Linked DNA regions of Homo sapiens. The protein of the gene in region 2 purifies or fractionates together with the protein of the main gene of each other region. This does not show direct contact. Each region holds a gene or a part of one and is shown on either strand. Other genes may lie near its edges.

Region 1 (3,654 bases), on a different chromosome or scaffold from region 2:
TCACTACTGATCCCAGTTGTCAAAATGATAACTGAAATCTTAACTTGCTGTCACCTTTAGAAACTCAGCTAGGTAATGCCTATGTCCATTTCTAATGTTCAAATAGGCAGCTTCGAAGACAAAAAACTTATTTTTAAAATTTTTTTGAGACAGGGTCACACCCTGTTGCCCAGACTGGAGTGAAGTGGCACGGTCATGGTTCACTGCAGCCTTGACCTCCCGGGCTCAGGTGATCCTCCCACAGGCACATGCCACCATGCCCAGCTAATTTTTTGTATTTTTTGTAGAGACAGGGTTTCACCATGTTGCCCAGGCTGGTCTCAAACTCCTGGGCTCAAGCAATCCACCTGCCTCAGCCTCCCAAAGTGCTGGGATTACAGGCGTGAGCCACTGTGCCCGGCCTAAAATCTTAAGTCATCAAAATAAAAGTAGTCACAAAGGTTTGCCTGTGAAAGGTGCCAATTAAAAATGGCATTAAGAGCTTCCCTGGCTAGAACTACCAAACCAGACTGGGTGCCCAGCCAAAGGGAGGTTTAAATGAGGAGGAAGAATGGGGTGGGGGCAAGACATGGGAGATAACCAACCAACCAAAACTCAGCCTCAAGAGGCATGAGGGTACATGTAGGAGCAGGCATACTGGGGTGAGGTAGGAAGAGCCATGGTTGGGTCTCCAGCCCCAGCACTGCCTCTTATTCCACGTGAACCTCCAGGAAGTGCCTGGACCATGCAGGGCTTTGTATATAATCACCAGGTGAACTTGGAAACCACTAAGGTTCTAACTTCGACAGGTTCTACCTTGCAGACCAGTGGTTCTCAAAAGGAGGTTCTCAGACCTACAGGATCAACCAGGAAACTTGCTGGAAAGGTAAATTCTTGGGTCCCATCCCACATCTACTGAATCTGAACTCTGGTAGTAGGCCCAGAAATCTGTGTTTCAACAGCCTCTCCAAATGATTCTGACACATGCTCAAGTCTGAGAACCATCAACCTAGACCCACAGTTTTCAACCAGGGGTGATTTTGCTCCCCTCCTCTTCAAACTGGAATGAAAAGTTGCTTGCTTGCTTCTAGGAACCATATTAAAAAGGCATCTTTTTCCACCCTTAATTTACTATTGCTGAACCAAACAGACCTGGGCTCCTGGGAACTCTGATGCAACCTGGGCAATGTCGTGAAAAGTTTCCTTATCACTGAAGAAGCGCTCAGCAGCTGCTCCCTTCCCCATGAAGTGAATGAAGGCTTCTTCCAGATCATTCCTTGAATGCAGAATGCTGTGATCTTTCCCATTCCCAGGACTAAGGCCAAGTGCCTGCAAGAGCTTCACCCCTGAGAGCACCACATCAACACATGCATTGACTCTAGAAGGAGGAAAAAAACTGTGTGAAAGCAGCAGAAGCACCAAGTAGCCATTTTGCATTTAACAAAAGGAAAATGTTTCTCAGAACCTTATTCAACAGAAAAAACAGGAAGTAGGTCTGAAACCTGAATTGGGAAGTAAACAGCACATGGCAGGAGAAAAATTACTTTAACTGGATTTATGTATTAGCATCAGAACACAGGACTCTTCAATAATTTGGCAAACTTTTACACTAGTTACAAAGTGAGAAGATAGGTGCTTAGCATTTCAGAACAAAGCTACTGTAACAAAAATGTAACATTTCTGAGAAAAACGCTGGCAGAGCCAAACAGGATTCATGCTGGCCGTGTGACTTGGGCAAGTCACTAATTTCTCTGTGCCTCGGTTTCCTCATCCACAAAATGGCAATAATATGAGCATTTAACTCATAGAGCTATGGTTAAGATTAAATAAGTGAATGTATACTTAGGAACAGCAATTGGCGCAGAGTAAGCAAAATATGTGTTTCAGTCAAAGGCTAGGTATCAGGCATCTTCCCTCTAAAAACAAATGAGGATGGTAAGATACAATAAATTCCTAAATGCCTGAGTACTCCCAGCTGAAACCCTGCCTCTTAGAATTTAGTGGTGTTTTACAGACTTAGGCACACCTGCAGCATTTTAAGAACTCACCCTTTGGCCAGTGTTCACAGGACTGACCCATGAACGTTAAAGACCTGCCACTCCTGGTTGTCTCGATGGAAATTATAAAGTACAGGTTGAATCCCTTATCTGAAGTGCTTGAGATCAGAGTGTTTCCGATTTTGGAATATTTACATATACATGAGATATCTTGGGAATGCAACCCAAGTCCAAACACATTTCATATATACTTTATACATACAGCCTGAAGGTAACTTTATACAATGTTTTAAATACTTTTGTGCATGAAATAAAGTTTCTATTCCTTACGTGTGGGTGGAATTTTCACATATAAGTACTTAATATACATCAGTGGCATCATGTCAGTGCCCCAGAGTTTTGGATTTCAGAGCATTCTGGATGCTCAACTTGTACTAAGGTTGTCTGGCATGACCTCTCCTATGTGTGTATGGAGAAAGTCTGTCTTACATTTTCAGGGTTTCTTTGCTAAGTCATCCCTCTTTTAAAGAGAACGTTCAAATAATTAAGGTAGCTAGATGAGGTCTTCCCGCCCCTACCCCTATCATGGTCATCTTTATTCCTGCCTCTGCCTATTGGGATGTCATTCTGGCCAGTGAGGTTGGATTACCACACAGGCAGCTCCCAGCCGGCAAACTGAGACCACCCCTAGTGATACGGGTGACTGGGCTTCAGAGTTAATTCTGAGCAGCTCTGAAACCACAAGGTAAACTCATTAATAAAAATGTCCCAATGGATGAGATTTTGGTGTAAAATACATAGTTGTATTTCCCTTTTAGTCTCTTTCAAAAATGAAGAGGAATGAGACTGGGATGAAGAGGAATTTTACCAGGTATATTTCTACTTTTAACATGCTTGTATTCCTTTTAGAATTTTTAAAATGACATAACTTTAAAAAGGTTTGTATGCAGACTAGATATTATTTACATCACTTAAGGAAGATTTACAAGGGCAAGGAAGAGACATCCTCCCTCAAGACACAAAGAGACTGCATCCTCATTATAAGGGTCCTTTTTATTAATTCTTCCCCTAGGGATTCATGTTTTGAAAGGAGTTTTGCCTATCAAATAGCATTTAAATACTCAGTTTCTTGTTCAAGACACACATAATGACTCTGGTCAACTGGAGAAGCATAACCTAAGATTTACTATGCCTTTCAGTGCATAAAACATCTAGCTACTGTATTTGGCCCTTCTCTTTAAAAGAGGGATGATTTCTAGTAAAGAAACACTGAAAATATAAGCCAGAACTTCTCCATGACACACACAGAAGGGGCCATTCTGGACATGCACGTGGCAGTTGCTTAAAGATATGTTTAAAATCTTTCCTTTCACAACCTTCAATGTTAAGAAACCAAACACACCTTGCAAACTGGTCTCAATTTTACCTCAGACATGGTGCCCTTTATTTCTAATGAATGCAACATTAGATTGGTAGAATCAACAGGAATACAAGTATCTGTAGCTCTCAGACGCCAGTAGGTTCCTAAGTTTCAGACAGTGAGGGCTTGAGTAAGGAGGGATACCATTTCCTCCAGACAGCCCAGTCTAAAAAAATTGTATCCAAATGGATTTGGGTCCCGAGTCTGAAGAGTAAAGGTTCAGAAATGGAGGGAAACCTGTCTTTGAAAATAACTACT
Region 2 (3,654 bases):
CAAAGAATCAGCAGAAAACCCAAAGGCAGCAGCAAGTGAAAGGAGAAAAGATGGCCCTAGCGTGGGCTGAAGGAAGGCCTGTATTACCTCTTGGTACAGACACCCCCAAACAAAAAGCAGAGGTAGATGGTCATTCTGACACCTGCCCTGCCATGGTGTTCTCAGGCCTGGACACCCCAAGAACTGGGCAGCTGTCTCCCCTATCATCAGCAGAGCACTGCTCCTCTCCCCGTCAACCACCCTCCACCCCACCTTCCTAAATCCTAGCTGGAACCACAGAAGTGGCCAAAAAGGGAGGGAGCCAGGGTGAAATGCACTTCAAGAAGAGTAGTCTTTAAACTCAGAAGGCCTGGGGAAGATATTTACATTAGAACTGGGGAAGATATTTACATATAATTTTTACTTGCCAATTAAAGAAAAACAAACAGAACTGGAGAAGATACTAGAAACATCTATGACAAAAACGGTAACATTCTCAATACATAAAGAGCACTTGCAACTAATGAAGAAAAAGACAAACATGCTCCACCATGGGCAAATGAAAAAGTAATTCAGTAAGAATAAATACGAATAGGTGATAACAATGAAGTATCACAAATACTATTTGAACCTTAAGAAAGTGTTGGCTTGGCGCGGTGGCTCACGCCTGTAATCCCAGCACTTTGGGAGGCCAAGGCGGGTGGATCACGAAGTCAGGAGATCCAGACCATCCTGGCTAACATGGTGAAACCCCGTCTCTACTAAAAATACAAAAAATTAGCCTGGCGTGGTGGTGGACGCCTGTAGTCCCAGCTACTTGGGAGGCTGAGGCAGGAGAATGGCGTGAACCCGGGAGGCAGAGCTTGCAGTGAGCCGAGATCGCGCCACTCCACTCCAGCCTGGGCGACAGAATGAGACTCTGTCAAAAAGAAAAAAAAGAAAGAAAGTGTCAAAGATTTACAGGACAATGCTGTGTGTTAGCAGGATTATTAGAAAAATAAGCCCTCATACTTGGCTGACAGGAGGATAAAGTTGATACAGACTTCAAGAACAATTTGGGAAATGCAGCAACGCATTAAATCTGTCTATAACCTCTGACATAGCAATTCATCTTCTGGTATTTACCCAAAGGAAATAATTAAATATGTGGCCAAAGATGTAGTCACCAGAATATGCCTCACAGTGACTGTATAATTTAAGCACTGGATATAAATATAAACACTTATATAACCTAAATATTCATCAGTAGGGGGTTGAGTAAATTAATGATGGTGCATCCATATAAGAAAATATTACGCAGATATTTATAAAGGTGTTATAGAAGAATACTTACTGACATAAAAAATGACCCTGGATTTTTTTTTAATTAATTAATTGATGTTTTTGAGACTGAGTCTCATTCTGTCATCCAGGCTGGAGAGCAGTGGTGAGATCTCGGCTCACTGCAGCCTCCACCTCCTGGGTTCAAGCGATTCTTGTGCCTCTGCCCCTCAAGTAGCTGGGATTACAGGCACACACCACCATGCCTGGCTAATTTTTGTATTTTTCAGTAGAGACAGGGTTTCACCCTGTTGGCTGGCCTGGAACTCCTGGCCTCAAGCAATCCGCCCACCTCAGCCTCCCAAAGTGCTGGGATTACAGGCGTGAGCCACCACACCCGGCCCCCTGGTTTATTTTTCAGCAAATGTGCAAACATTTGGGAAAAAAAAAATCTATGATGGGATTACTTCTGGTGGAGAAATGGGGCTGGCCAGGTGCTATTTCTTGACCTGTTTGACCTGGGTGATATTACATAGTTATTCTCTTCACACACATATTTATTCTCAACCGTGGCATGATTACTATGTGGGCTGAATCACTCTGTGGTTGGTGTGGGGGACCTCCCCTTGCACTGTGGAATGTCTAGCAGCATCCTCAGCCTCTACCCTGTAGATAAACACCCTGTGCCCCCAACCCCTGTGGCAACAACCCAAAATGTCTCCAGACATTGGCAAATGTCATCTGAGGAAAAAACTGCCCCCAGTTGAGAACTACTGTATTAAATCATATATTTATATCTTCTGCACTTTCCTTGTATGTTAAATTTTATAACTAAAATTTTTAAGAAAAAAAATCTTGGAGGAAATGTGTCAAATTGTTAACAAGTTAATTCAAAGTGGCAGGATTTGGGGCTATTTTTTACTCTTGCCTCATGGCCTTTCTGTAGTTTGTCATTTTTAACAGCAAGTACATATTATGTTTATAAAAAGAAAACAGGCTAGGCGGGGTGGCTGACACCTGTAATCCAAGCACTTTGGGAGGCCAAGGTGGGTGGATTGACTGATGTCAGGAGTTTGAGACCAGCCTGGGCAACATGGTGAAACCCCATCTCTACTAAAAATAAAAATAAAAATTAGCCAGGCATGGTTGCAGGTGCCTGTAATCCCAGCTACTCGGGAGGCTGAGGCAGGAGAATCACTCGAACCTGGGAGGCGGCGGTTGCAATGAGCCGACAACGTGCCATTGCACTCCAGCCTGGGTAATAAGAGTGAAAGTCCATTTCAAAAAAAAAAAAGAAGGAAGGAATGAAGGAAGGAAGGAAGGAAGGAAGGAAGGAAGGAAGGAAGGAAGGAAAGAAGGAAGGAAGGAAAGAAGGAAGAGAAGAGAAAGCTCTTTTCTTTTTTTTTTTTTTTTTTTTGAGATGGAGTCTCACTCTGTCACCCAGGCTGGAGTGCAGTGGCTCAATCTTGGCTCACTGCAACCTCCGTCTCCTGGGTTCATGCCATTCTCCTGCCTCAGCCTCCCGAGTAGCTGGGACTACAGGCACCCACCACCACACCCGGCTAATTTTTTTTGTATTTTTAGTAGAGACAGGGTTTCACCATGTTAGCCAGGATTGTCTCGATCTCCTGACCTCATGATCCACCCGCCTTGGCCTCCCAAATTGCTGGGATTACAGGCGTGAGCCACCACGCCTGGCCGCTGTTTTCAATATTTTAAGTCATTTGTAATATGTAAACAGCTAGGTTCAGAGAGTCCGGGGCCTTCAGCCCACTTTCCCTACATAGGTGAGTTAAGAGTGTTCCCTGACGACAGGAATCCACCTCCAACTAGTTCTATAAGATCCCCCAACTCCTGCCCCAAATCTAGAGACCCCCAGGAGATCAAGAAGAGAAGAGGTGGGAGGGGGAGGCTGGAGGAGGAGACGCCCTGACAGGATGAGAGAGAGGGAAGTGTCAGTAATGACTTCTGGGTTCCTGGCTGATGACACAGGGCAGAAATTCACCAAGTGGGGACGCAGCAGATCTGGCCTTCAAGGAAATAAGATGTTTCAGCTTTAAAGCAGTAGGGATCTGGTTTTGTTCTTGTATGCATCCAAGCACCTAGAAAAGCACCAGGCACGTAGTAGGTACTCAGTAAATATTTGTTCAATGAACTAACTGCATGAATAGAGGGATATAAATAATCACATTAAGGAATGGAAAATGGGCAGGGCAGAAAAGAAGTACAGACAATTAAATGCTATAGGAAATTAAGCTGCTCGTTGACACAATCAGTCAAAAATATCTACTATGGCCCAGTTACTCATGGTAGTTTTAGTTAATGAATTAATTAATAGAAAAACAAAAGAATGAGAAGTATTCATTAGTAGCCTCTACTATTAATAGAGGTGCTTAGACAGGGAAGCCAAAAAAT
Region 3 (3,654 bases), about 98 Mb from region 2:
TCTCTACTAAAAATACAAAAAATTAGCCGATTTTTTTCTAATTATAAAAATAATATATGTACATTATAGAAAATCTGTACTCCAGCCTGTGTGACACAGTGAGACCCTGTCTCAAAAAAAAAAAAAAAAAGTTTGAGAAAATCTGGAAAGTACAGAAAGGTATACAAGAGAGCAGATATCTCCATAATCATACCTTACAGACATAATCACAAGCAACAATTTGGTGTAATTTTGTCATCTTTTTAAAAAGCATGTACATTTAAGCTTCCATACATATAAATGAAACTAAGAAGATATTTACAATTTTTGTGTGTTGCTTCTTAACTTACATCATGAGTGTTTACCCACATTACAGTCTTCGAAAACATTATTTTTAATGATAATTTAAATAGTGTTCCACAAAAGTTCCTTGTAATTTTCAGATACTAAAGTCTGTTTTGTAGTCAGGCATACATGTTTCTAAAAAAAGTAATAATATTTCTCTTTTTTCTTCATTGCTAAACTAGGAATATAAAAGGTACATACTCATCCAGATGTGTGAGCTCAAAAATTTTAAAAAGACCAATTTTATATGAAGAATAGCTGTCAAATATCTTTTCACATTAAGTCAATAAAAGCTTAAAAATGAAATTTTTAATAAAATTATAAACAGCGTAAAGGAATGAAAACTTGGGAAGCATTCATACTTTACAGATATCAATCATTAACAAGTTAAGTGAAGATCTTTTCATAAAGAAACTACATTTAAAATCAAATGATTCCACAGAGACATGTATATCCATCTACACAGACAATTATTCAGGGCCAGGTGTGCTGGCTCACACCTATAATCCTAGCACTTTGGGAGGCCACCGTGAGAGGATCATTTGAGGCCAGGAGTTAGAGACCAGTATGGACAACATAGTGAGACCCTGTCTGTACCAAAAACAAAAACAAAAACAAAAATTAGCTGGGCATAGTGGTAGTCCTAGCTACTCAGGAGCCTGAGGTGAGAGGATCACCTGAGCCCAGGAGTTTGAGGCAGCAGTGAGCTATGATTGTGCCACTGCACTCCAGCCTGGGTGACAGAGCCAGACCTTGTCTCTTAAAAATAATCATAATTATTCACAAGTATTACCTTTGCATTTCTAAATTCACAAAGTTAATAACAAGGACAAATAGAGCATGACAACACTGACTTAAGGGTCATGTGTTCCAGATTACAGACATATAATGCATCAGAATGTTAGACAAGATTTACATCCAGTAACAACAAAAGAAACCCAGATGAAAATACTTCCTTTGTAATCTGTGGCTCTGTACCCTCCCCTCCCCACATCCTAATTAGAAAGATAACTTTTTATCCAAAGTTAACAATTAAAATGTATAGTTGTTCACATGCTATATACTAAGATGTGGCAACTCACTTATTTGTTGTAAGGTCAAAAGCTTCAACTGAAGCTGAAAGACCATCTTCAGTGACACCTCCTGCAATCACAATTTTGCCTTTATGGACTGCTACTCCAAACATGGAACGAGGAATTTTCATTGGAGCCAGATCTTTCCAATCTCCTTTTTTGGGGTTGAAGATAAACACCCTGTTTGTACATTTTCTGTAAACAGAAAAACAAATGTTCCTTTTAGAACCTTTTTTTGACAGCACCTTCACTAATAATTTGGCTTTGCTTGTCATGAAAAATATATAGTAGGATCAGAAAACTCCAAAGAATTCTTAATTTGAACATATGCCACTAAACAAAGGACAAGCCCAAATGTGGGGACCAAAACTATAACTTAATTTTACTGTTGGAAGATAGGGTACCTTTACTTCTGGATAGCTGCTTAGAACCCCAGGCACAGCTGATTTTAATCGTATCTACTAAATTCAATTGAAGTTTTTTTACTCTATTTGAGTAAAAAATAAAATCATAAACCTTTTATTGCACCTCAATAACAAATGGTAAGTTTATTTATTATCTGAATATCCTAGGAACGAATCAGTTAACTTAAAGAATAATTAGGTGCAAATATACCTACTTTAAATTTTATATGATAGATCATTTTATTTTATATTAGCACTAACATACCAGTGCATTTTAAGAAATCTGGGACTATGGATTAGACAACAAATCATCTGAGCTGATGAATCATGACAACAGTTTTACATGCTAAATGCTACCAGAAAGACCTGGACTCATCTGAATTATTATTCACTCTGCCACCCAGGCTGGAGTGCAGTGGTGCGATCTTGGCTCACCGCAACCTCCGCATCCAGGGCTCAAGTGATCCTCCCATCTCAACTTCCCAGGTAGCTGGGAACACAGGCATGTGCCATCACACCCAGCTAGTTTTTTGTATGCTTGGTAGAGACAGGGTTTCGCCATGTTGGCCAGGCTGGTCTCGAATTCCTGAGCTCAAGTGATCCTCCAGCCTCAGCCTCCCAAAGTGCTGGGATTACAGGTGTGAGCCACCATGCCCCGCCCTTAGTATGTTTTTTATGGTTCCTTGAAGTTATCTATAATTTGATGGGAGTTCAGAATTTCAAATAATAATTGATTAACTGGATATATTTGGTGATGAAAAACACCTTAACTTTTTTGTGAGGACAATTTTTTTCTTAATTGTGTAAAAGACCAGTTATCTGGAGTAGAAGCATTTCCTCTAATATTTGACTATTGGTATCATTTGAACACTTCTTGATAAGAACATTATCCAAAATCACGTTCTTCAAATTCATTAGTGGGAACTGGTGCAATTCAGCACTTACTTTTATTTATTTATTTATTTCTGGAGACGGAGTTTCGCTCTTGTTGCCCAGGCTGGAGTGCAGTGGCGCGATATCAGCTCACTGTCTCCCGGGTTCAAGTGATTCTCCTGCCTCAGCCTCCCTAGTAGCTGGGATTACAGGCAAACGGCACCACGCCCGGTTAATTTTGTATTTTTAGTAGAGACGGGGTTTCTCCACGTTGGACAGGCTGGTCTCAAATTCCCGACCTCAGGTGATCCACCTGCCTCGGTCTCCCAAAGTGCTGGGATTACAGGCATGAGCCACTGCACCCAGCCCAGCACTTACTTTTAGATAATGACTCATTTCAAAGTTCTTGACTTTGACATTTGTCAAGCAGTGTTGTGTTAGTTAATCATATTCTCAAGATTGATATATTCCTACTGACAAGAACTGTATGCTTCTTACTGACATATCAATTTCCTAGTTACTAATGCTGCTTGAAGGAAACAATTTAAATCATTTGGCAGGGTTCCTGTGTTTCCAAAGTCAGAATGCTCTTTAGTAGTGATTTTCCATTCAGTTTACTCAGGAAAAATGCCCAAAATAAGATCTGGCACCAGGTAAGCATATAATATACCTTCCTTTAAATTTGATAGGAATAGCTGGGATTAGGGAGGATATAAAAATTTTAGAATATGTTATCTTTGAATACAGGTAGATGTTTAAAAACCATTGCTTTTTAAAATCGCCTTTTCTGTGCTATATTTACCATTTAAATTGACTAATACCCAATAATCATTAACTCCAGAATAGAGTTCTTGACATCTAACACATTTCTATATTTTACTCTCCTTTCCTGCTTTGCCCTTACAATTCTAAATTTTGGCTCCCTTTTCAGGGTTGGACATCACTATTAATTCAATGGCCTGGGCAAATGATGACAAGCC

Evidence for each region.
Region 1: the proteins of DYSF (region 2) and ADPGK purify together in Homo sapiens (affinity purification with western blotting, with the first as the bait; one study listed by BioGRID). This does not show direct contact.
Region 3: the proteins of DYSF (region 2) and KLHL41 purify together in Homo sapiens (affinity purification with western blotting, with the first as the bait; one study listed by BioGRID). This does not show direct contact.

The regions. Positions count from the first base shown.
Region 1 is NC_000015.10:72,773,741-72,777,394, forward strand, and holds part of ADPGK (ADP-dependent glucokinase isoform 4 precursor), read right to left. Parts: intron 1,358-3,654; coding exon 1,132-1,357; intron 1-1,131. UniProt on the Homo sapiens protein: Catalyzes the phosphorylation of D-glucose to D-glucose 6-phosphate using ADP as the phosphate donor. GDP and CDP can replace ADP, but with reduced efficiency.
Region 2 is NC_000002.12:71,469,676-71,473,329, reverse strand, and holds part of DYSF (dysferlin), read right to left. Parts: intron 1-3,654. UniProt on the Homo sapiens protein: Key calcium ion sensor involved in the Ca(2+)-triggered synaptic vesicle-plasma membrane fusion.
Region 3 is NC_000002.12:169,516,128-169,519,781, reverse strand, and holds part of KLHL41 (kelch-like protein 41), read right to left. Parts: intron 1,593-3,654; coding exon 1,407-1,592; intron 1-1,406. UniProt on the Homo sapiens protein: Involved in skeletal muscle development and differentiation. Regulates proliferation and differentiation of myoblasts and plays a role in myofibril assembly by promoting lateral fusion of adjacent thin fibrils into mature, wide myofibrils.